Homo sapiens: one gene and its partners. The protein of the gene in region 2 interacts with the protein of the main gene of each other region in a pairwise test. Each region holds a gene or a part of one and is shown on either strand. Other genes may lie near its edges.

Region 1 (3,500 bases), on a different chromosome or scaffold from region 2:
ACTTCCAGATATCCCCACCCCAACCCCTCTCACTCACATCCCCCGTACCTGAACGAGCAACAGGGGAATGGGGGTGAAGGGGGAGGAAGTGGAGAATCCACCCAAGATCAGCAAAACAGCAGACCACAGGGTATGCAGCCAAATGCTGTCGTCAATGACAACAGAAAGCTGGATTTCTTGACTCCATTCATCTGACCCAGAAACTAGAGGATAAAATGATGGGCACGTGGTTTATGACAGAAGCAAGGAAAAAAAAAACAAACTCGCTACTTATCCCCCCTGTTATTTACTCCACTTCCTATAAGCAATCTTCAAAACGCTCTGTTCCATAGACATGATCCTCTTCAAGTCTAAGTGACTCCAAGAGGCAGCAAAGTACCAGGGGGTAAGGACCTAAATTTGAATCCAGCTCTGCCTCTTACTATCTATGTGACCCTAGAAAAGAGACTTGACATCTGAGCCTTAGTATTGTTCCATGTAAAAGAAGGACATTACCAGCTGGACACGGTGGCTCATACCTGTAATCCAGCACTTTGGGAGGCCGAAGCAGGCCGATCACCTGAGGTCGGGAGTTCGAGACCATCCTGACCAACACGGTGAAAGCCCGTCTCTACTAAAAATTCAAAATTAGCCAGGTATGGTGGTGCGTGCCTGTAATCCGAGCTACTCGGGAGGCTGAGGCAGGAGAATCACCTTAACCCGGGATGCAGAGGTTGCGGTGAGCAGAGATCACACCATTGCACTCCAGCCTGGGCAAGGAGAGCGAAACTTCACATCCAAAAAAAAAAGAAGGACATTACCTATCTCAAAGGGCTGTTGTAATGAAAATGCAACTCATGGAAAGTGCTTAGTACTGAACCAAACATGTCATAAGAGCTCAATGAATGGTTATTTCATAGAGAAGGAAACGGAAGCCGGAGGGAAGCCAATGCTAGCCTGAAGCGGCATTTAGTTCAGTGTGAGCAGAGATGGGATAAGAATGAGACTTCACAGGCTGCAAGACCAAGACTCTTATACCCATCCTTTCCCCTTGCATTTAAATCAATTCCCCCTAAATGCATGTGCAGGATCAGAGAATGAGAAGGGAGACAGAGCAAGGAGATTAACTTTCACCAGGAATAAGGTTCAGAACCTGCAGCTGCTCTTGTGGCTTAAGCAGCCCCCAGACCCTCCCATTCTCCCAAGCTGCAGAAAGGGACAGGCTGTCTTCACAGGGACCACTGCATGGGAACCCGAGGACCTGAAACCTAGTAACATGGTCAGATGCAGGGCCCAAGAGACCCTCATCCCACTCCTTTTCTCCTTCTCTCCATTTTATCAGTCACTCCAAGCAAAGGAGAACAGACCAAACAGCCGAAAAAACAAACAGGGGCCCAAAAGCAAAAAACAAAGGGAAGGGCCTATTAAGAAGCTGCGCCCATGAGTGTCCCCTGGTGCTTTTTGGAAAGATCCTAGGCCCCCTCACTACACTTTAAAAAACCTGCTCCCCTCCCCGCCAGAACTTTAGAAGAAGTGTTCTGGTTTTTTCACAAATTGCCAAGACAGGGGAGCCAGGCCCCTAACTTGGGAGCAGCCAGGGTGTGAAGGAGGGGTGTGAGGGCCTCAAGTCCTACATCAGGTGCGGGGCTGGAGCGGGGCCTACCTGTGCTGCTCCACAGCCTCGTTATCAGGAAGCTCGACCCCACACACGCTGCACTGCTCTCCGATGGTCCGGCTCTCTGACTTCATGCCCACAGCCAGCTCCCCCAGCTTGCTGAACAGCTCCCTCTGGATGAAGCCCTGGGGCAGCAGCCCCCCATAGGTGCTGAAGTCCATGGAGACAGCCAGGGCAGGCTGCACGTGGAGGCCAGAGGTCACGGAAGACGGCATGCTCAATACAGCGTCAGCCTTGTGGTTGGGCAACACGGAGTAGATGCCCAGATGCTTCTCAGGCGGGGGTGCTGGGTGCTCAGGTCGGCCAGTGGGGGCCTGGCCAGCCTCAGCTGGGGGTGGCACCTGCTCGGCACTCTCCTCTCGCCCATAGTGTAGCTCCCTAGCACTGGTGATGACGCTGCTTCGAGTCGGGGTCCCAGGCCCCTCTTTGCCTCTTTCCTCAACCTTGTCCCCCATCCCTCCTGAGATGCTGGACTCGGCTGCCCCAGGGCTGTCCTGGCTGGGCACCTCATCCACCTGCATCATCTCCGTCTTCACCTCAGCCACCCCAGGGTGCCGCCCACCCCCAGCCAGAGTTGGCTCCTCGGGCCCTGCAGGTGGCTGAAGAGTTCCCTGCAGGAGAGACTGTCCTATGGTCATCAAACTGTCCACTGCAGCCTTGGTGGGACTCATGGCTGAAAGACCAAATGAAGTGGAGACTGAAGGGCTCTGGTCCACCATGGGCCCAGGGAGGCTCTGTCCAGCCACACTGGCATACCCACTCTCCTCGCTGGAATGCTTCGAGATGAAGATGTTCTTGAGGTACCGAGCCTTGCGGTCCTCTTCTTCCTCGGCCCCGCCATCGGCCATGGTGGCCTCCGTGTCATTGTCGTCTGAGGCCTGGATGGTCTCCAGCATCTTCAGGCACTGTTCCTCCAGGTACTCGATCTCCAGGATCTCGGCCGCATACAGCAGGTCATCCAGGTCCTCCGCCTTGGCTTGCAGCGTGGCTGTATATGCATACTCCAGAATCTGCTGGAAGGTCTTTGGCGAGAGGAAGTCCAAAGTATAGTGTTGACTATTGCGGTGGAAGAGGATCTCAAACATCTTGCTGGTGCAGGCCAGCACCGTCCGGTGGGCGTGGAACTCCTGGCTGTCCACCATGATGACCACATCGCACAAAGTCCCGGCCAGCCGCATCTGGTTGGCCTTGCACAGTAGCCCCGTGGGGTGGCTAGGGTTCTGCAGCTGGATCATGCCCATTTTTGTCAGATCCATGGTGCTCCCCTCGGCTCAGGCATGAGGCTTTCTTTCCTTCTGGGCTCTGCGTGGCGGGGCTGGGTGGGCTTCCTGGGCCAATAGAGGAGGCTAGGAGAAAGAAGAGGGGAAGAAGCAAAAGAGATGAGAGAACAAAAGACAAATTCATCAGTGTCCCTAAAAGTAAGAATTCAACCACTACAACATGCCCCCTCCTCCCTGTTGCCAAGCCCTTAGCAAGAGGATCTTAGAGATTTTAATTGAAGTAGCTTCCTAGAAATCTACAAATCTGCCTTTCAAGCCAGGGATGCTGAGAGTAAAAAGAAGGTTCTGCCACAGCAGATGCCTAATTCACTACTCTATGACATCTGTTAGATGAAGTGAAATGAAAATTGTAGTGAAGTCCTATAAGTCCTCAGCTTTCTCTGTGTCTGAGAGTAGGGGCTCCCTAGGCAAGGCCAACATTCATTATGATGAAGTGCACTTACTTAAAATTAGCAAGACTTTAGCCCCTTCCTTGTCAGCTTCACGCCAGCCCCCTGGATGTCAAGCCTTATCTTTAAACAGTTTTTCCAAACTCTGCCTCACTACAGGAGCCCCAGAAGCAGAGT
Region 2 (3,500 bases):
AGACGTGCCTTTCACCTTCCACAGTGATTGTGAGGCCTCCCCAGCTACATGGAACTGTAAGTCCATTAAACCTCTTTGTTTTGTAAACTGCCCAATCTTGGGTATGTCTTTATCAGCAGCATGAAAACAGACTAGTACACTCTCTCTCACATTTTCCTTGGCTCTCCTCTTATAAGGACACTTGTCTTGGGATTTAGGATCCACCCTAAATCCAGGGTGATCTCATCTTGAGATCCTTTACTTTAATTACATCTGCAAAGATCTATTTCCAAATAAGCTCACATTCTGAGGTTCTAGGTGGACATAAATTTCGGGGGATAAATATTCAGACCACTATAGTGACATATACACAACTTACAATAAAAATATAAATGTACCATCGAGTCAGTTGTCTGAGAGGTAGCAGACGACCTCTTTAAAGGCTCACACTAGCTGTGAAATCAGGCTCCTCGCTGTGTGGCCTGCTGTCAGAGTGAACTTCAGCAAATACCACAGGAGCCCCTGACAGCATCTTCTCTGACACAGGGAAAGATAAAAAGCAGGAATATAAAAACCTGTCACCCATCTATTTCCATATTCCTTCTATCTGAATATTTCTTTCTCCCCTGCCCCCATCTCTTTCCATATGTCAGTTTAGCAGGCACCTAAGGAAGGCAACAGTGCCACTCTCAATATAATATTTATGAGATGGTTAAAGAATAATAACTGTGGTATCTATTTTAATTTCCATTTTAATCTTTTGTCCTACTTTTGAAAAAAAAAGGTCTAAAAAAGTACTGTAATTCAAGCACAAATATAAGCATACATACTTAATACTTTTTTTTAAGACTTAGGGTCTCACTTGGTCCCCCAGGCTACAGTACAGTGGTGTAATCAGGACTCACTGCAGCCTCAAATTCCTGGGCTCAATCGATCCTCCTGCCTCAGCCTCCTGAGTTGCTAGGACTACAGGCATGCACCACCATGCTTGGCTGTTTTTTTTTAATTTTTTGTAGAGATGGGGGTCTCACTGTCTCTGCAGGATTATGCCCAGGCTTGTCTGGAACTCCTGGCCTCAAAAGGGATCCTCCTGCCTCGGCCTCCAAAAGCACTGAGATTACAAGTGTGAGCAAACACACTCAGCTGCATAATTAATACTCTGGAAGGAGCTTTCTTGTTATTACTGTTGTTCTTGGTTGGAGGGGTGTGGGAAGGGGAGCCGTGTTGGGGGAGTTTAGTGTTACACATGCTGAGTGCAAAGCACACCTGGGGAGGACGGGAGGCCTCAATGAGGATGTGGGGAGCATGTCCAGGGCTGACCTTGAGATGAAAAACCAAATTTAGAATTTTCTCTTCCTAAATATTTTGAGCCTCATATTTGTAGCCCTTCATAAAAAGCTTCTTCATAGCCCTCATATTAATGACACAACCAAACATGAGAGTTAAGAATTAAGGAGTTAGTAGTTAATATTTAAGGAATAGCCTGGGGGTCCTGCAGACCTGGGTTTGAATAAGACCTTGGGCAGGTTGCTTAACCACACCTAGCCTCAGTTTCCCCAGCTGTAAAATGGACAAATGTCTCTAGTTCATGTTATTGTGAGGATTACATGAGACACTCAGCAGTGTGCTTTGCTGTGGAATAACCCCTGACCATGTTAGTTATCAGAGTCTCACTAGGTCCTAGGAGGAGGCAGGAGATACCTGTATTCCCATATGATAGCCTCAAAGAAGTCAAAAGCACACACAGCCAGTGCTGCAGGGCTGGAGACATAAATGGAAATCAAACAACTGCAAATCCCTGTTAATTCTCAGTGTAATTAAATTCCTGGTAGAATAATAAGGTGTTTCATTGTTCTCCCAAACTATAATCCAACCAGCAAATTATGTTTGAGTTTTTTAAACCATCTGAACCATAAGAGAATTCATACCAATTCTGAGTATAAAATTTCTATTATGTTGGGGAGGTAACTGTCCCCAAGTCACAGGCAGAGCCAATGAAGCCCAACAGGCACTGATGTTTAGAATCCGCAACAAAAAGGCTAAGACTCAGTAGAATGTAATCTAAATCATGAACAGGCCAAATCTGCCCCTCAGCCTGTGCTTGAAAATAAAGTTTTATTGGAACACAGCCATGCTCATTCATTTGTGTATAGCTGTGACAAAGATGGCATGGCCCATAAAGCCTAAACCATTTACTATGTTGCACTTTACAGAAAATGTTTGCCAACCTCTGCTGTAACAGAAGACATATAATGGGGCAGCATTGAGGAGAACCTGAAAATATCTTAAAATGCCAAATTGCATTCCTAGCGTTCTTGTTACTTTCAGTCTCATGAAATAGGGGTGCTTTATTTTCCATGATGTAGCATGGAAGGTAAATCCCCCAAGTGACATGAGCAAGAGGATCTTTTTTTTTTTGAGATGGAGTCTCGCTCTGTCGCCCAGGCTGGAGTGCTGGAGTGCAGTGTCGCAATCTCGGCTCACTGCAAGCTCCACCTCCCAGGTTCACGCCGTTCTCCTGCCTCAGCCTCCCGAGTAGCTGGGACTGCAGGCGCCCGCCACCACGCCCAGCTAATTTTTTTTTTTGTATTTTTAGTAGACACGGGGTTTCACCGTGTTAGCCAGGATGGTCTCGATCTCCTGACCTCGTGATCCGCCCGCCTTGGCCTCCCAAAGTGCTGGGATTACAGGCATGAGCCACCGTGCCTGCCCTGGAGGATCTTAAAGTTAGGAGGCATTTCTCCCAAGAAAGCCACTGGAGGATCCTGACACTCAGCCACAGTAGTCTCTGTGGCCTCAATAGCTTTTTCTCCCCCATGATGAAATTCCGCACGTCTACAGACAGTAAGGACTCACTCGGATTTTCTCTTCTTCCAGGGTTGGTGCTGGCCTCGATCCTTGCTCCAGTTCCTCCTTTTCTGCCACTTTCTTCCAGATGTCTTTAGTCTGCTGGTTATCCGGAGCCTGCAGATCATGGTACTGTGATTTTGTTTTCAAGCTATTGGTGAATTCTTCAGAGTGAGTTTTTCTGAAGAGAGGCAAAAGTGAAATTCTCAAAAAACATTCTTCAACAGGAAGAGCCTTTCCAAAGCATATGTCGACATTCAAATTATGTGAAAAACAGTAACTGACACCACTTACTGAGTGCTTCTAACATGCTGGGCCCTTTGCTAGGTGTGTAAAGACGTTAACTTCATCCTCATCACAACCCTGTGAGGAAGGCATTGTCATCCTCACTTTGTTATAAGAGCTCCAAGAAATTTTGTAATTCATCCAAGACCACATAGTGGTACAGCCAAGATCTGAACCCTGGTCTGCTCAACTCCTGGTTTAGAAGTTAACCTATTAGAACCACACCGTCTGCTTCCAATCGATGATTAAATAATTCCTTTATCTTCATATGTCCATGGATAGTTTTAAAGTTACAGGCACTAGTGGGCAGCATCCCAGCCCTTGAAAGTCCAATGCACCATCCACTGTGCCACAGAGTCTGCTTTGCATCCCTAGCCCTTGGGAACTGA
Region 3 (3,500 bases), on a different chromosome or scaffold from region 2:
CATAATGAGCTGTTTTAGTACTAACTAACCATCATCTAAGAATTCATAACTCAGTACCTGTAAAGTTTTCTGCTCCTTTTGAAGATCTTTTATTTTATTCTGTTGGTGGCAAGCCCTACTTAGTGATTCATCCTCCAATTCACCAATTTTGGATTTCACACTTTCCATAATTTGTTCCAAGTCATTAGCTCGTTGTTCTTGATTGGCTGCTCGGCTTTGCTCTAGCTGAAGTTCATTTCTAAGTTAATAGACATACAATTTCTTCCCTTAGTATTAAAAATAAATCGAATTACCAAGCATATCCATATAAGAATGTATTGCCTTTCTAAAGTTTCTTTGCATTCTCTTTATCCAAAATGCTTGGAACCAGAAGTGATTCATATTTCAGATTTTTTCAGATTTTGGAATATTTGCATCATACTTACTAGTTAAGCATCTCAAATCTGAAAATCCAAAATCCAAAATGCTCCAATAAGCATTTCCTTTAAGCATCATGTTGGTGCTCAAAAAGTTTCAATTTTTGGAGCCTTTCAGATTTTCAGATTTGAGATGCTCATCCTGCAACAGAAACTAATAGAAGAAATATAGGGTACCATTAAACATCTATGCTAAGCTATTACCAAAAGATTTACCTATTAAAATTTTACCTACAAAAATATTTTTTAGTTTAATATTTAATCAAAATGGGAAATTAAATTTCAAGATTTTTTTCAAGGCAGTTATTTTTAGAACGCATACAAACAATTCAAAAGAAATCTTTTCCATTTTCTCACCTAAGCTGTTGATTAGTTTCTATAAGCTCCTGTATCATGTTCTGTTGACATGATGTTTCTTCCACCAACAATTTCAAATTCTGTCTCATCCTTTGTGATGACTGTTTGTCAAAAATGATGAGATCTACATTTAAAAAGTATATAATACAGATAGTAAAAATAAAAGGCAAAAAAAATTTTTTAAGGAAAAATAAACTTTTTACCTTAAGCATCAAGAATAGGATCTAATTACCTTTGAGATCTGTTCTTTTGACTAGAGACAAAGGTTTTAAGCCATGCATCATCAATAGCACATTTATGCTTTCCCATTCTGCTTCTTCCTGCTACAATTACAGAAAGAGAAGAAAGGGTTAACTTTAGATATAAAGTGAAGAAATTCTCTCATATATAATTTCCTGCATTTTCAGAATAGAACTTTTTCTTCAAAAGTTTTAAGTATAAATGTTTATGCATATATAATATCCAAAAAACACATTTATTGTTTCTAGCAAAATTAGTAATAGACTAGAAGTATGTAAATAAGCACAAATTGTTGCATTATACAGAATACTCATATGTAGGCCTCAATGGACAAAACCAACAACAACAACAAAAACACCTTGTAATTTCAGTGAATCAAATAAATCTAAGGTTTTAGATTTAACTAAGCCAAACCAAGCCCTGCTCAGAATAAACAGCTGTAAACTAGGCTATAATAACTGGATAGTAAAGAAAAGAAAAGGTGAGTCACTTCTAAGTATCACTTTCTTTTTTCTTTCTTTTTGAGACAGAGTCTTGCTCTGTCACCTAGGCTGGAGTGCAGCGGTACGATCTCGGCTCACTGCAAGCTCTGCCTCCCAGGTTCACACCATTCTCCTGCCTCAGCCTCCCGAGTAGCTGGGACTACAGGCGCCCGCCACCACGCCCGGCTAATTTTTTGTATTTTTAGTAGAGATGGGGTTTCACCGTGTTAGCCAGGTTGGTCTGGATCTCCTGACCTGGTGATCCACCCGCCCTGGCCTCCCAAAGTGCTGAGATTACAGGCGTGAGCCACCGCCCCAGCCCCTAAGTATCACTTTCATAATGACTAGGGTCACAAAAAAATCAAAACATACCTGACTAGTTGGAGCCAATATTTCAGACAGCTCCTTGTCAAATGGACAAGGTCTAACTATAAAAAGGAGCCCGTCCATCTGGATAACTGACTCTAACAGAATCACCCTGAAAGACACTCTCAAAGTCAAACAAGTCTTTCTTTTTGACTGTTGACTTCTTCCTCCTTTTTTTTACATCTCCTCCCACTCATAACTTTTCTCTCATTTATGCTTTAGTCTTTCTGATCACAGAGTTTAACTACGTGGTAGACACAACTAAAATTAACATTGATGTTGTTTTAGGAGCCAAAAGCTCTGAGTTAGTGTCTCAGAACTTCTACTGTAACTCATAAAAACAAAATGCTCTATACATAATAAAGTCACATATTTTGAATGATTAACTTATACATATTGTTTCCTGATACCTCTTACATTTTAAGATAAAGTAATTGTAAATTCTGAAAATAGTTGGGAATGGCATTTTCCAAAGTACATGCTACAGAACACTAGTCTAATGAAATGTTCATCAAACTAGTGTTAAGTATGTATGAAATGCTGTATACTAAATCCTCCCTTTGGAGACTAATATTGTGAAGTCTTAGAGTAATTAAACCATTTCATAGTCTTTAACCCAGCATTTCCTAAAATTATTTGAGAAAGAATCCTTTTAAAGTCAAATTTTCCTGTTTGTAGATGTAGCATTCTTTGGCACATATTTTGAGAAGCAGTGTCTTAAAATATTTTAAGTTTACCTGTTTTTCAGTCATGAGTCTGTCTGATGGTTGACTGGAATCCTGGGGTTTAGGGGCTACCGGAAACATAGTTACTTTTGTAGAATCAAAAGAAACAGAAATTGGCAATTAAAAAATTTGAGTTGCCTAAATGAAAAAAGACAAAAAGTGCAAAAGGAGTTAAAGAAAAGTATATTTAAAAGAATCCACTACTCTTGCAGGGCAATTCAGGTCATTCCTGCGTCAAAACTTTGTGACTTCTTAGATAGCTGATTGTAAGACTCATTTGAATAAACCCTATCTTATAATGTTCTCCTCTGGAAATAAAGCATTCTGGGATTTTACACATATACCACACACACACATACACTCTGTCCTGTCTAACCCCCCACCACAGAATGCATAACTGGTACCCAAGAACAGAGGAAAGAATGGAGTAGAAGGAGCATTTGAAGAGCTAATGGCTAAGAAAAATTTGAGAATCAATGAAAGACATAAATCCACACATTCTAGAAACCCAACATATTGCAACTGGGATACAGTAAAAAAAAAAAAGAAAAAAGAAAAAAAAAGTCAGTCATACCTAGACACTAATATCTTCAATGTGCTGAAAGAAAATAATTGCTTATCTAAAATTCCAAAGCCAGTGAAAACATTCATTAACGAATAATAAAGGCAAAAGTAATATATTTTCAAACACATGACACAAAATAAATCTGAGAGTGTTCATTGCATCTGCTCTGTAAAAAAATTCTAAAGAAGCTGCTTCATGCAGAAGACTCCCTGATGGAAAAGCAGAGATGTAGAAAAAAATAGAGCAAAAAAATGGGCGAGTTTAAACACAGACTACATAATGAGATCTTGTGAAGTATAAAATGTACAATTAAAATGCACAGTAACAGAAATATATTAGCTGAGAGTAG
Region 4 (2,461 bases), on a different chromosome or scaffold from region 2:
TGCACACCTGTAGTCCCAGCTACTTGGGAGGCTAAGCTGGGAGGATTGTCTAAGCCCAGGAGGTTGAGGCTGCAATAAGCCATCGTTATGCCACTGCACTCTGTAGCTTAGGCTACAGAACGAGACCCTGTCTCAAAAAAAGAAGAAAGAAAATTAGATCTCTATCTCAGAGATCTAACAGGTAGAAAAGCATCTTTCTATCTATAGACTTCAAGGGAGGCAGATAATTATAAGATGCCCAGATAAGCCTTCCTGACACCAAGTCCAGGCTTGTGAAGAGGGGATGTATAATGTGATCATTGGAGATTCCTCAGTTTGGAGACTTATCACAGCCTGAGAGCCAGTCTGTTGCCAGGAGGAGGCTGCAGGGAGCCAAGATAAGGCTGGAGACAAGATTTATGGATTTGTAGAATCTAAGACTACCCCTACAGCCTTTCTTCATAGCATCTTAACCCTATCTAGCAGCAAAGACACGAGTACAGAAAAAGGGCACTCTGAGAGCATTTTCCAACAAAACACTTTATTCATTTTTTTTCTATATAGCTCCTTCCAAAGGTAATTCCCCCTGCAGCCTAGCCAGTCTGACCTCTCTCTCCATGCTTGCCACTTTTGCAGAACAACAAAACAACATTGGGATGAGATTCAACATTGGGATTCTCCATTGGTGGGCAGCAGGGGTGGAATCTACTCTGGGGCACCCACCTTTAGGGACTGGCAAGTGGGGTCAGATGGTCCCGCTGCTCCCTACTGGCTACGACGTCGTTTCTTCCTTCTGCCCGTGACAAAACTGTCACACCGCCTTTTACGAGGCTGTGAGGGTCGAACTACTCCCAGAGCTAGGGGTTTCTCCCTGGGGACCCCAAGTTGAGCTCCTGAGTGGGGTGTCTTTTCAGTAGGGGCTGGACCTCCAGCTAGAGCTCGCTTCCCAGACTTGGCAACAGGATATGGAAGTTTGCTGGGGCCTTTTGCTCCAGCAGGGAGCAGGTGGGATGCTCTCTGGCTGCCCTGACCTCCTGAGGCATGGTGAGGACTGAGGGGATGCTCCCTTGGTGAGAGGCTAAGTTTAGAGGCCAAGAGGTAAGCAAAGTTGGAGAGTTCCTCATCCTCTTCCTCTGCTTCCTTTTTCTTTTTCTCCTTTCCTTTGGCCCTGTCTGCTGACCTGTGTGTTTTACTAACAGAAGTTTCTCTCGGAACTATGGCATTCCTGGTTCCCCTTCTAGGCAAAGTGCTTCCAAGGCCCTGGTGAGAAGATGTTGCTTTGGGAGTCCCAGTTGTGTAAGACTCCTGACTCTCTTGTAAAGGAGCAAGGTTTTTAGGCTTGGACAGATCAGGATCCACCCTGCCTTCTCCTTGGGGGTCATAAGAATGAACATTCAGTGGGCAGGTGTCCTCGCTGACCCTTAGTTGGAGGCCACAGTCATCTTTAACATCTAGTATGTTGACAGGTTCTATGGTTTCCAACAGAGGAGAAAAGGAATTGCCTCTGCTCCCTGCCTCTTGACTGGCTTCAGGCAAGGAGGAGGCATCCTCAGTCCCCATGATAAGGAGATTGCCTTGGCATGTGGGTGGAAGGGTTTCTTTGGAAGACCCCAGTGTGGAATCACCACTTTCTAGCAATGGGAAGCAACCTTCTGCCCACAGATCACTGGGATGCCCTACGGTTTCACAGCTCTGTTCTTGATTTTCTTTGGACCTCAAGGGTGGGCTGTTGGCCCTCAAAGGTCCTGGCAAGCTGCAATAGTTTCTCTTTTCTAGGGCAGCTGCCGCAACTGTGCCTCCACAGGGAATCACACTGCTCTCCGTATCCCCAGGTACTAGGGTTTCTCCAGGACCCAGGGAAATGTTGCCCCTGGAGCCCAGTCCCTGGCAGCCTTCCTGATACTCAGTTACACACTTCTCAACTTGGAAGCTCTCTATGACCTCCTCTATTTGTACAGGCAGCTCCAAGCCTACAGCATCCATCTCACTGCTCAGCCAAACTCCTGGGCTGAGACAGACATCGTCCCTCTCCCCAGCTGCTCTAGGGGAAGGATTCTGATCATAACTCTGAGCCATGGGGGTACCTCTGTCATCTCCCCACATGGCTCCTGAAGAGCCTTCCCAGGGCACTGCTAAAGGCTCCTTCCCTTGAGGAAGCACTCCACGACCCCCTGTTTGTTGTCCTTTCTGCAATCCCAGGACTTGCTTTTCTAACCCTTGTCCTTGCAGAGGAGCCAGCTCTGCAAGTCCAGCATCCAAACTGGGAGTGCTCTCAGGCTGGAAGCCTCCCTGCCAACAAAGGGGCAGAGCCTCTGAAGTCCTATCAGCCACCAGGCAGTGCCCAGGAGGCCCAGCGCCTCCTAGATGGCCATCCTGATGTAGAGATACCTGGTTTATAACCTTCCCAGACCCTCTCCTCTCCACACCCAAGGGTCCCGGAGTTCCCTGTGGAGCTGCAAGTTCTGGCTGCAGGTCCCAGCTG
Region 5 (3,500 bases), on a different chromosome or scaffold from region 2:
TTTTTCTTCTTCTTCTTCTTCTTTTCTTTTTCTTTTTCTTTTTTTTTTTTTTGAGACAGGATCTTGCTCTGTCACCCAGGCTAGAGTGCAGAGGCACAAGCACGGCTCACTGCAGCCTCAATCTCCTGGGCTCAAGTAATCCTCTTATCTCAGCCTCCCGAGTGGCTGGGACTACATGTGCACACCTCTAGCCCGGCTGATCTTTTTATTTTTATTTTTAGTAGAGAGTGGGTCTCATTATGTTGCCCAGGCTGGTCTTGAACTCCGGGACATAAGCAATCATCCCTCCTCAGCCTCCCAAAGTACTGGGAATACAGTCATGAGACACTGTGCCTGGCTAGTTTTCTTTATAACAGTTTCTACTATCTGAAATTATATTACACATACATATGTTTATTTCCACTCCTCCAAAAAACACCAGTGCCATAGAGATAGGAAACGTATGGATCACCACTGTATCCCCAGTCCCTAGATTAGTGCTTTACAAATGGTAGATTTTCAATAAATGTTTGAATGAATGAGAGAATCAACCAATAAGTCAATAAACCTGAGATATGCTACTTGCTGTCTGTAAGACATTGGGCAAAGAATTGACCCTCTCGGTGCCTCAGTTTCCTTGTTTGTAAAGTAGAGATAATAAAATAGCTACCTCATTAATGTTGGTGTAAGCATTAAGTATGATAATTATGTAAAGGGTTTAGGCCAATAACTGGTAGGTAAAAGTACTCAAAAAGTTACTTTTTGAATCATTTCATGGCAATGCATTTCTGCCTGAATCCCCGCAGCAACAGGGAACTCAGTAACTGAGTGGAGTTAGAGCGGCTACTTCATCCATCCAAGGCTCCCCAGAGCCTTCCTGCCCTGCAGGCTTCCCAGCACTGCCTCAGACTCTCTTTATCTATGCAAGACTGGGAACCCTCGGGGGAAGAAGACAATCCAATTTCCATTATGCAGGCTAGACTCAACACAGGAGAAACATCGTGAGCATCTGAACCTCTTTGGAGTGAGGGCTTGCTCTGAGGGCAAAAGCTATTGGAATTGGGCAAAACACAAATTTTGAGTTCAACTAGTTGAATTTCTACCTTCATTTTAGACGTGTTGCTTTTTTAGGGAAACTTGCCTTTGAAGAATTCATCATCAGGTAGTAAAACATGACCAGGATCTTCAGAACAAAGATGGTTTTTTGGGGGGCTTTGTCAGATGTAGATTCTCGAATGTTCAAGATTGAAGTCAGGATGCGAATGGCTTCTGCTTCTTGGGCTTCATCTGCATTGGAAGGGGAAGAAAGAAAAAACAGGCTCTTGGCAACTGAGTCTGCCCTCATCAAAAGCACTCAGCTGTTAAAGCGCCTGGTCTGCTGAAGCCTTCCCAAGGGCACTGGTGGAAATAGCACCAATTACAGCAAGTTTTTTACCTAGAGGACTCCCTCCAGGTGCAAAGCAGGAAGCTCCGAAGCAGGAGTTTCAGACCGCTTTCCAGCTTTGCTTAGCATGCCATTATCAGAGTAGCCTAAAAATAGGCTCACTCCCACAGGTCCCAAAGTTGCTAAGGTTTCTCTCTTTCGGAGTCCTGAACTCTAGATCTCTTGGGCTTACAAACACAGATAATCTGCCACAGGCAGATTCCTTGGGTCCAACTCAGATTCCACTCTACAGCTGAGAGGAGAGAACTGGGGGAAGGGACTTCTTGCAGCTGCAGCAGCTTAACTCTTCTCGTCTAGGCCATAGATGCGTAAGCAACAACCTTCATGCTTCCCTCTGAGAGTCTGTTTACTATTTTCCCCAGTAGTTTTTGGTCCTACTTTAGTCATCATTTACTGAGAAGTCACTACATGCATTTAAAAGCACTTATACAAGTACTAAGCTTAGAGAAAAAGACGAAAAGGATATACACCATCATGTTAAGGTTGGCTATCTTTGGATATCTATGATTTCCAAGTTTTCAGCTATAACATGAACTATTTACATAATGAGAGAAAATTCAATAAAGTTATTAATTTTTTAAACTTTAGCTCAAAACCTCTCCTCCAAAGAGTCTTCCTTCTTCAACACCACCCAGCTGTCCTCACCTCTTCATTCTGGGACTCATCTTGTAACATAATTTGTACTCACAGGAATGTTCTTTTGTTATTGCCTATAGGTTCTATATCACCAACTGCACTGTATGTCTCTTTTGAGCAGAAACTAGATCCTCTGTGTCTTTTCATTGTCTCTGAGGGCATGATGCTGTACGGTACTATTCAACACTTAGCCCTTTGCTGGCCCGGGGAATACAGTTTAATCCAACTGGGCCCTGCCACTGAGAAGCTCACTGTTCAGTAAAGCATGAAGTTAAGGCACCAGAAGAAATCAGCAATGCACCTTCTGTGTAGAGTCTACCTTGGCTTACGTGTCCTGGAGCAAGAGTCCCCAACCCCCAGGCCATGGACCAGAACTGTTTTGTGGCCTGTTAGGAATCGGGCTGCACAGCAGGTGGTGAGCAGGGGTGGTAGGGGCGAGTAAAGCTTCATCTGTATTTACAGCCACTCCCCATTGCTTGCATTACCACCTGAGCTCCACCTCCTGTCAGTTCAGCAGCAGCATCAGATTCTCTTAGGAGCGTGAACCCTATTGTGAACTGTGCATGCAAAGGATCTAGGATGTACACTCCTTATGAGAATCTAATGCCTGATGATCTGTCACTGTCACCCATCACTCCCAGATGGGACCATCTAGTTGCAGGAAAACAAGCTCAGGGCTCCCACTGATTCTACATTATGATGCATGGTATAATTATTTCATTATATATTACAATATATTAATAATAATAAAAACATAGTACACAATAAATGTAATGCACTTGAATTCTCCTGAAACCATTCCTCCCACGCCCCCCAGTCCATGGAAAAATTGTCTTCCATGAAACGGGTCCCTGGTGCCAGGGAGAGATTGGGACTGCTGCCCTGGAGGGATAACATAGAAATGGATGCTCTGCAGAAATCACAGGGGGCTTTGATGTGGTCTTTTTTTCCCTCTAAATCTGTCCCTTAGTAACCCCCGAATGGCTATGTGTGATGATAGGGATCTGAATTCTTCCCAACACTGGTAAAATCTCTTTGATCCCCGTGTCTCAGTTTTCTCCATCAGCAACATGGGGAAGGTGGCAATGGTGTGCTTCATGACAGGGACAGCTGCTTTCCCTCTTAGGGACAAGGTCTGTGTATTGGGTGAGATGAAGTCACTGCTCTCCCTTCAGGGAAAACTGCCACTTACCCAAGCCAGTGTCATTCTCAAATAGTTTGCCCAGTAAATCCATTTGTTGGATGTGAGCCTGTGAGAGGACTTGATAGTGATTGTTCAAATATGCATGCCAGATCTCAGAGACCTGTTGGGAAAAGAGATGGTAATACAACAAGCAGGCCAGACCTCAGCCGTCGGACCAGGCAGGTGAGGAGAGTAGCGCATTTGGCCGGGCTTCTGGACAACCTGGAGGTTCTCTCTCTTACTGTGCCTGGAGGCAGA
Region 6 (3,500 bases), on a different chromosome or scaffold from region 2:
GGCTGGGCGCGGTGACTCACGCCAATATCCCAGCACTTTGGGAGGCCGAGGCGGGCAGATCACGAGGTCAAGAGATCGAGACCATCCCGGCCAACATGGTGAAACCCCATCTCTACTAAAAATACAAAAATTAGCTGGGTGTGGTGGTGCATGCCTGTAGTCCCAGCTACTTAGCAGGCTGAGCCAGTATAATCGCTTGAACCCAGGAGGCGGGGGTTGCAGTGAGCCGAGATTGCAGCACTGCACTCCAGCCTGGTGACAGAGCGAGACTCCATCTCAAATAATAATAATAATAATAATAATCTAAATTACTAAGGCTATGCTGTCCACTGGCAAGGTTTAACTCTGTGACTAAGTTTAAAAACCAAAGTAATTCCATTATATGTTATAGATAAAACATTGGTAGGTTTTGTTTTCTCATTTTATTAGCAAGTATGTGTTACATAGCGGGCAGTGTGCAAGATTCCAAGGAGACTATGATAAATAAGATAGGCACCAGCTCTGCCCTCAAGGACTAGTTGATACTAACACTGAGCAAATTATTTCCTCTTCCGAGTCTCACTCACCCACACTGTAAAAGGTTGGGAGAACATCTACTCTGTATTTTGCAAGAATCACTGGTACCAAAGGGGATGTATTCCAGGGTGTGATGACTGGACACACATAAGTTTGTATGTGTGTCAAGAATATTAATTTTCTTTATAGCCTTATATTTAATCAAATGAACTTGAAATTAAAACCCTCAAAATTCCTGTATTCATTTTCCAGAAAAAAACATTTCTCCTAAGACAAGGTCAGATTGACCATGAAGTGCTATACTGATATTATTCTTCAAGACATTTCTCAAGATTAGGATGCTGAGGTCCAATTGTAACTCTAACGAAATTCTATTTTACAGGTTTCCCTCTTGGATTATAAAAGCATTTTAAAGATATAAAATATATTTACAAATGAACTGTGGCTATAAAAAGGTTAACAATGATATATTAATCACCATACCTACACCCATAAGTTCCACAGTCAGACTGGTCACTCCATTTTCTGAGCCCAAAACCGATCGCCATTCCAGAAAATATGATGCTACTAAAGTCGTCTCACCAAATATGTCTGTTTTGATTAGCACCATATGAATTGGATCACTTATTGATAACATTGTTGTTGAATCAGCCATTCTAGTTCCATCACCTAGCAATATAATCCAAACGAAATTATACCACACTACATATTCAGTTAGGCCAACATAAAAGAATACTTTTATTAAACAGTAAATAATAAGCTTATATAAAACCAAAGAGAACAATTTGCTAATGTCTCAGAAAGCATGCAAAAAACTGGAAATACAAGTACAGTCCTATTTCTATCACTAACTTTTCAGAAGACTGGCAAATTGTGATGAGTTATCCAGTAACTTACAGCATATCAGTGCTTTCTGATTCATAAGATAAGTCTGTTCTTTAAAAGTACTTAACTAAAGTATATGCTACTACAATAAAAAGCCTTCAAGTATGTCAATATTAATCCCCAAACTACCTCAAGAAATCCCTTTAACCTCCAGAAATTATCACTGTATAATTGACATACAACTGAAAAATACAGCACATCGAATCTAGCAATTTATCCTATTAATTGCCTTATTAAGGTAACATCTTTCAAAGGGAAAAAAATAAATTTTAGTAATGTTTCAGTCATCTTTAAATCTAAAATTGTGAAGACATTCTGAAACTTTGCTTAGTTTACAAATATAAAGATTTCCATACTGACAATTACAAAATACAAAATACCTTTACTGAAAGAAACATAGTGTAAAACAATTACAGGAATCAAGTAGCATAAAATTTAGTTATGAGAATTACATGCTTTATTGGAGAAATAAGAAAAAAAAGAAAAAATTAAAATGACAGTTATATGTTCACATCTAAATTTGACTTTTTATTTTATTTATATTTATTTGTAAGTATTTATAAAAATTTATTAGAAGTTTTTATAAATAATTTATAAATATTTATTCATTTATTTATTTATTTAAACAGAGTCTCACTCTGTTGCCCAGGCTGGAGTGCAATGGGGTGATCTCGGCTCATTACACGCGCCTGCCACCATGCCCGGCTAGAAATTTTGTATTTCTAGTAGAGACAGGGTTTCGACATGTTGGCTAGGCTGGTCTCAAACTCCTGACCTCAGGTGACCCACCTGCCTTGGCCTCCCAAAGTGCTGGGATTACAGGCATGAGCCACCACACCCAGCCTATTTTTTATTTTTTGTAGAGACAATGTCTCACTTTGCCCAGACTTGTCTTGAACTCCTGGCTTCAAATGATTCTCTCACCTAGACCTCCCAAAGTGTTGGGATTTCAGCTGTGAGTCACCGTGCTCAGCCTAAACTTCGACTTTTAAAAGTTACATAACATCATCAATCTGGTTATATTTTATAAATGAGAAGGACCATGTCTCATTTTCCACTATATCATCCCAGCACCTGCCTAGCATAACACTATGCACATAATAGGTATTTAAGTGTGTATTACTAAAGAATCAACAATGAAAACAGTCAAAAAATAATATCCAGGGAAAATGAATAGCAAACAGAATATTGCAAGAAGGTGGATAGTAGTTTAAATTGAAAAGAGCAGTGGGAAACAAAATAGAGATTCCTCCATTATAAATCTCTCCTTACAGAAAAAGTCATTATTATTGTTTCACAATAAAACATAACAAAGATTTACTCAATTAAATGACAATTTATTACTGTTTCTTACCCAAGCTTTCTCTGTGTACTTCAAGTAAAAAGCCATCATGAAAATCTGGTTCACAGGCACATGGAACAGGTTTAGAACGAAAACGTTGGTTTCGATAATGTAAACATAAAGTAAACGTTGAACAAACTTGTCCAGGTAAAGGCTCAGGTTCTTGCAGATGTTCCAAGAAAGCTTTTCCACCCAAAACCTGAAGGTAAAGATACCTCCGTGTTGGATCAATATTAGCTGTAAAGTGTAGCAATATATATGAGGAAACTGCCAAATAACTTAAAAGAATGTGATCAAGACATTAGGAAATAAAAACTTGACAGATAAAAACCCAATACCAAAGACTAAAAAAAAAGCAAAAGAGTAACAAATTTATTACTGTATATGCCAGAATCATTTGCACTCTGGGGAGAAGATACACAAAATATGATATTCTTTTCTGAGTTTACATCCAGGCTACTTTCTCCCAGCTGGAAAAGGCATCAGAGCCAATATGTAGTATACTTTTGCTTTTTAACTGCTTATCCAACATTCCTCCACCTTCACAAACCAACTCATATAATTATCAATTCAGCAAGTGTATTTGTCAATTATATTAATATTTAAAAGCAAGGCTGTACAGTTTTTATAAAACATATTATTAAAACACAAGAAACTGGTGATGCTGTTTTTGCTTCTACCGTGCTATACATTAACTCTTCTGATATACTTCATGCAAAACAATCTGTTTTAGCCAACCATAAAATTTTAAGTATTT
Region 7 (3,500 bases), on a different chromosome or scaffold from region 2:
GCTCCTGCTCCAGCTGCCGCTGTGCCTCCTCGGCCCGCCGCTTTTCCTCCAGCCGACGGTTCTCCTCCTCCTTCTGCAGGGAGAGCCACTGCCCGCTCAGCCCTATGCTGCCACTTCAGCCTAATCCCCTGCCCAGGACTGAGTTTTAGGCACATGGCCAAAGACGGGCACCAGAGCCAGTCGATCATTAGCCTTGTGGCTTAACTTACCCGAGCCTCAGTGTGACCATCTGTAATGGGCACCAAGGAGAGTGGATGCTGCATGAGCTCACTTGTGAGGAAAGATGAGCCACAGCAAGCAGAACACTCCCACGTGCCCAGCATGCCCCGGGGCAGCACTCACCTCTGCTTTGGCCCAGAAGCTGTCTTTACCAACCCTTTTAATCTCAGACACGGCATTGGTCTTCTGGTACACAGAGCCCTGTAGGGGACAGCACTCATTAGAGACCTGGACCCAGGTGGAAGGCCAGGCCCACAGGCACCAAAGGAGAGAATACGCTAAACTTGCGACAGCACAGGTGAGTGCTGCTAGGACTGGACCCAGCAGAGGCAGCAGAGCACTGCCCAGTGACCCTCAAGGAGACACACACCAAGATGACCTGAAAGAAGCCCAGGACACTGCCCCAAGGGGGATGCTCAATCCCAGACAACACTAGAGGGGTCTCTGGTGGTCTCTCGCCCTCATGGATGGGGGCCAGGGCAAGAAAGGCCCCCATACCCCACCTGCAGACTCCTAGACATTGGGCAGTTCTGAGGCAGGCCTCTGACCAGGGGCACTCAGACAGCTGACTACCACAAGAGCATCCAAGGAATCACGTCCAACCACACGCATGCGGACGCAGCTCCCAGCCATCAGCTCCACACAGCACTGGGGCCACAGGCCCACAGGTATCTCCCGTGACTCCAAGGGGCCTGCTCTGGTTTCAGGCTCCGCCTTGATGCCTCCTTTAGTTCCTCCACGGTGGCTACCTCCAGGGGCAGCCCAAGATGTTCCAGTGCCATGACCTTGAGGGCAGCCAGACTATCATAGCCATGCATGCTGCAGAGCCTCCACTCTGACCACACAGGCTGGGCTCCAGAGGAAGGCTCCAGAACAGCTAGTCCAACCCCTAGGCAAGGTCAGAGGGCTATTCCTGCTCATCTGGTCAGTGGGCAATCACCACAGCTCAGGGGTTACCATCTGCAGAAACTAAGCAGGCATGGGCCCAGCCAGCCCGGGTGCTGGGAAGTGCATATTCCTGGCCCCCTGCCTCAGGCCCTGAGCAACAAAAGGGCTGGCGATGGGCAAGCAGCACTCACCACTGGGGCCTGGGGTCCCACGTCCTGGAAGCGGCCACTCTCCTTGTGAAAGCTGTAGTTGGCACCTGAAGCCTTGGCCACCTTCTCCATGATGCACTCAGGCTCCACATCCTCCTCGGCCCGTGCGTTGATGGTCACATGGGCCCCCTGCAGCAGGAGCAGCACTTGAAAGAAGGGCTTTGCAAGCCCAGGAGATGGGCCAAACTCCTGTCAGTCCATACAGCACGGGCCACTACTATACCACACAGGACTGGAATCAGGAAACTAGAAGGCACCTGTCTGGCTGCTGAAAACTGAGGCACGAGTTCCCCTCAAGGGCTCAAACAAACCAACTTGGAGCAAACCCCTCATTCTTGTCCCAGTTCACGTGAGACCCTTGACCTCCACTGTGCTATCCAGTGGTTCCTTCTGTAGCTGTTCCCTGCTGTGTATCAATAGACAGCCCAGGCATAATTTGCATCAAAGGCCTTCCTTCTAATCAATGAAAACTAATTTTAAATGCCATCTGGAAGCCACAAAAGACCCTGAATAGCTAAAGCAATCTGAAGCAAAAAGTACAAAGCTGGAGGCTTCATGCTACCTGATTTCAAATTAAACTACAAAACTACAGTAAGCAAAACAGCATGGTACAGGCATAAACACAGACACAACAATGGAAACTAACAGAGCACTCACACACACAGCCAACTCATTTTTAACAAAGGTGACAGGAACATACACTGGGGAAAGGACGGTCTCCTTCATAAACAGGGCTAGGAAAATTGGATATCCATATGCAGAAGAATGAAACTAAATCTTCATCTTTTACCATATTAAAAAAAAACTCAAAATGGGTTAAAAAGACTTAAATGTAAGACCTGAAACTATGAAACTACTCAAAGAAAACACTGGGTAGATGCCCCTGGACATTGATCTGGGCAAAGATTTTTTTTGGGTTAAGACCTCAAAAGCCCAGGCAACAAAAGCAAAAATCAACCAATTGGACTACATCAAGCTAAAAGGCTTCTGCACAGCAAATGAAACAATCAACAAAGTAAACAGACAACCTACAGAATGGGAGAAAATATCTTCAAACTATCCATCTGACAAGGAATTAGTGACCAGAATATATAAGGAACTCAAACAACTCAGTAGCAAAAAAATAATAATCTGATTTTAAAATGGGCAAAAGACCTTAACAGATATTTCTCGAAAGATGATATACGCATGGCTAACTACATACAAAAAAATGCTCAACATCACTAACCATCATCAGGGAAATGCAAACCAAAACCATAACGGGCTATCATCTCACCACAGTTAGAATGGCTATTATAAAAAACATAAAAAATAAATGCTAGCAAGGATGTGGAGAAAGGGAAATTCTTATACACTGTTGGTAGGAATGTAAAGTAGTACAGCCATTATAAAAACAGTATGGTTTTTTGGGTTTTTTTCTGAGACAGAGTCTTACTCTGTTGCCCAGGCTGGAGTGCAGTGGACAATCTCGGCTCACTGCAACCTCCACCTCCCAGGTTCAAGAGATTCTCTGCCTCAGCTTCCTGAGTAGCTGGGATTACAGGTGCCCGCCACCACACCTGGCTAATTGTTGTATTTTTTTAGTAGAGACGGGGTTTCACCATGTTGGCCAGGCTGGTCTTGAACTCCTGACCTCAGGTAATCTGTTCACCTTGGCCTCCCAAACTGCTGGGATTACAGGCGTGAGCCATCGCGCCTAGACAACAGTATGGTTTTTAAAACAGTATTTTAGTCCTACTAAAAGCAGAACTACCATATGATCTAGCAATCCAGCTGCTGGGGATATATCCAACTCTGAAGTTCAGCGCTATTAACAATAGCCAAGATACGGAATCAACCAAAACGTCCATCAATGGATGAAAGGGTAAAGAAAATTTAGTATATAAACATGAGGGAATATTATTCAGCCATAAAACAGAATGGCATCCTGTCATTTGCAGCAACATGGATGGAACTGGAGGTCATGATGTTAAGGGAAATAAGCCAGGCACAGAAGACAAGTATTGCATGTTCTCACTCATGTGGGAGCTAAAAAAGTGGGTATCATGGAGGGAGAGAGTAGAATGCTGGTTACCAGGGGTTGGGAAGGGCATGGGGGAGAGAAAATGAAGAGAAGTTGCTTAACAGGTACAAAAGTACAGTTAAATAGAAGGAATAAATTCTAGTATTCAATAGTACAGAAGG

The links.
Region 1: the proteins of SH2D4A (region 2) and ZBTB16 interact in binary tests that used the Homo sapiens proteins (3 or more experiments, as listed by UniProt).
Region 3: the proteins of SH2D4A (region 2) and CEP70 interact in binary tests that used the Homo sapiens proteins (3 or more experiments, as listed by UniProt).
Region 4: the proteins of SH2D4A (region 2) and NUTM1 interact in binary tests that used the Homo sapiens proteins (3 or more experiments, as listed by UniProt).
Region 5: the proteins of SH2D4A (region 2) and ZMYND12 interact in binary tests that used the Homo sapiens proteins (3 or more experiments, as listed by UniProt).
Region 6: the proteins of SH2D4A (region 2) and CEP76 interact in binary tests that used the Homo sapiens proteins (3 or more experiments, as listed by UniProt).
Region 7: the proteins of SH2D4A (region 2) and DBNL interact in binary tests that used the Homo sapiens proteins (3 or more experiments, as listed by UniProt).

Annotation. Positions count from the first base shown.
Region 1 is NC_000011.10:114,062,711-114,066,210, reverse strand, and holds part of ZBTB16 (zinc finger and BTB domain-containing protein 16), read right to left. Parts: intron 3,001-3,500; 5' UTR 2,911-3,000; coding exon 1,643-2,910; intron 1-1,642. UniProt on the Homo sapiens protein: Acts as a transcriptional repressor. Transcriptional repression may be mediated through recruitment of histone deacetylases to target promoters. May play a role in myeloid maturation and in the development and/or maintenance of other differentiated tissues.
Region 2 is NC_000008.11:19,334,193-19,337,692, reverse strand, and holds part of SH2D4A (SH2 domain-containing protein 4A), read right to left. Parts: intron 3,008-3,500; coding exon 2,836-3,007; intron 1-2,835. UniProt on the Homo sapiens protein: Inhibits estrogen-induced cell proliferation by competing with PLCG for binding to ESR1, blocking the effect of estrogen on PLCG and repressing estrogen-induced proliferation. May play a role in T-cell development and function.
Region 3 is NC_000003.12:138,570,261-138,573,760, forward strand, and holds part of CEP70 (centrosomal protein of 70 kDa), read right to left. Parts: intron 2,725-3,500; exon of another isoform or gene 2,673-2,724; 5' UTR 2,668-2,672; coding exon 2,599-2,667; intron 1,097-2,598; coding exon 1,006-1,096; intron 898-1,005; coding exon 774-897; intron 267-773; exon of another isoform or gene 239-266; coding exon 58-238; intron 1-57.
Region 4 is NC_000015.10:34,355,775-34,358,235, reverse strand, and holds the end of NUTM1 (NUT family member 1), read right to left. Parts: coding exon 745-2,461; 3' UTR 501-744; downstream 1-500. UniProt on the Homo sapiens protein: Plays a role in the regulation of proliferation. Regulates TERT expression by modulating SP1 binding to TERT promoter binding sites.
Region 5 is NC_000001.11:42,432,023-42,435,522, forward strand, and holds part of ZMYND12 (zinc finger MYND domain-containing protein 12), read right to left. Parts: intron 3,364-3,500; coding exon 3,252-3,363; intron 1,267-3,251; coding exon 1,121-1,266; intron 1-1,120. UniProt on the Homo sapiens protein: Required for sperm flagellum function and male fertility.
Region 6 is NC_000018.10:12,696,224-12,699,723, forward strand, and holds part of CEP76 (centrosomal protein of 76 kDa), read right to left. Parts: intron 2,981-3,500; coding exon 2,756-2,980; intron 1,186-2,755; coding exon 1,000-1,185; intron 1-999. UniProt on the Homo sapiens protein: Centrosomal protein involved in regulation of centriole duplication. Required to limit centriole duplication to once per cell cycle by preventing centriole reduplication.
Region 7 is NC_000007.14:44,054,702-44,058,201, reverse strand, and holds part of DBNL (drebrin-like protein), read right to left. Parts: intron 1,446-3,500; coding exon 1,299-1,445; intron 421-1,298; coding exon 343-420; intron 74-342; coding exon 1-73. UniProt on the Homo sapiens protein: Adapter protein that binds F-actin and DNM1, and thereby plays a role in receptor-mediated endocytosis.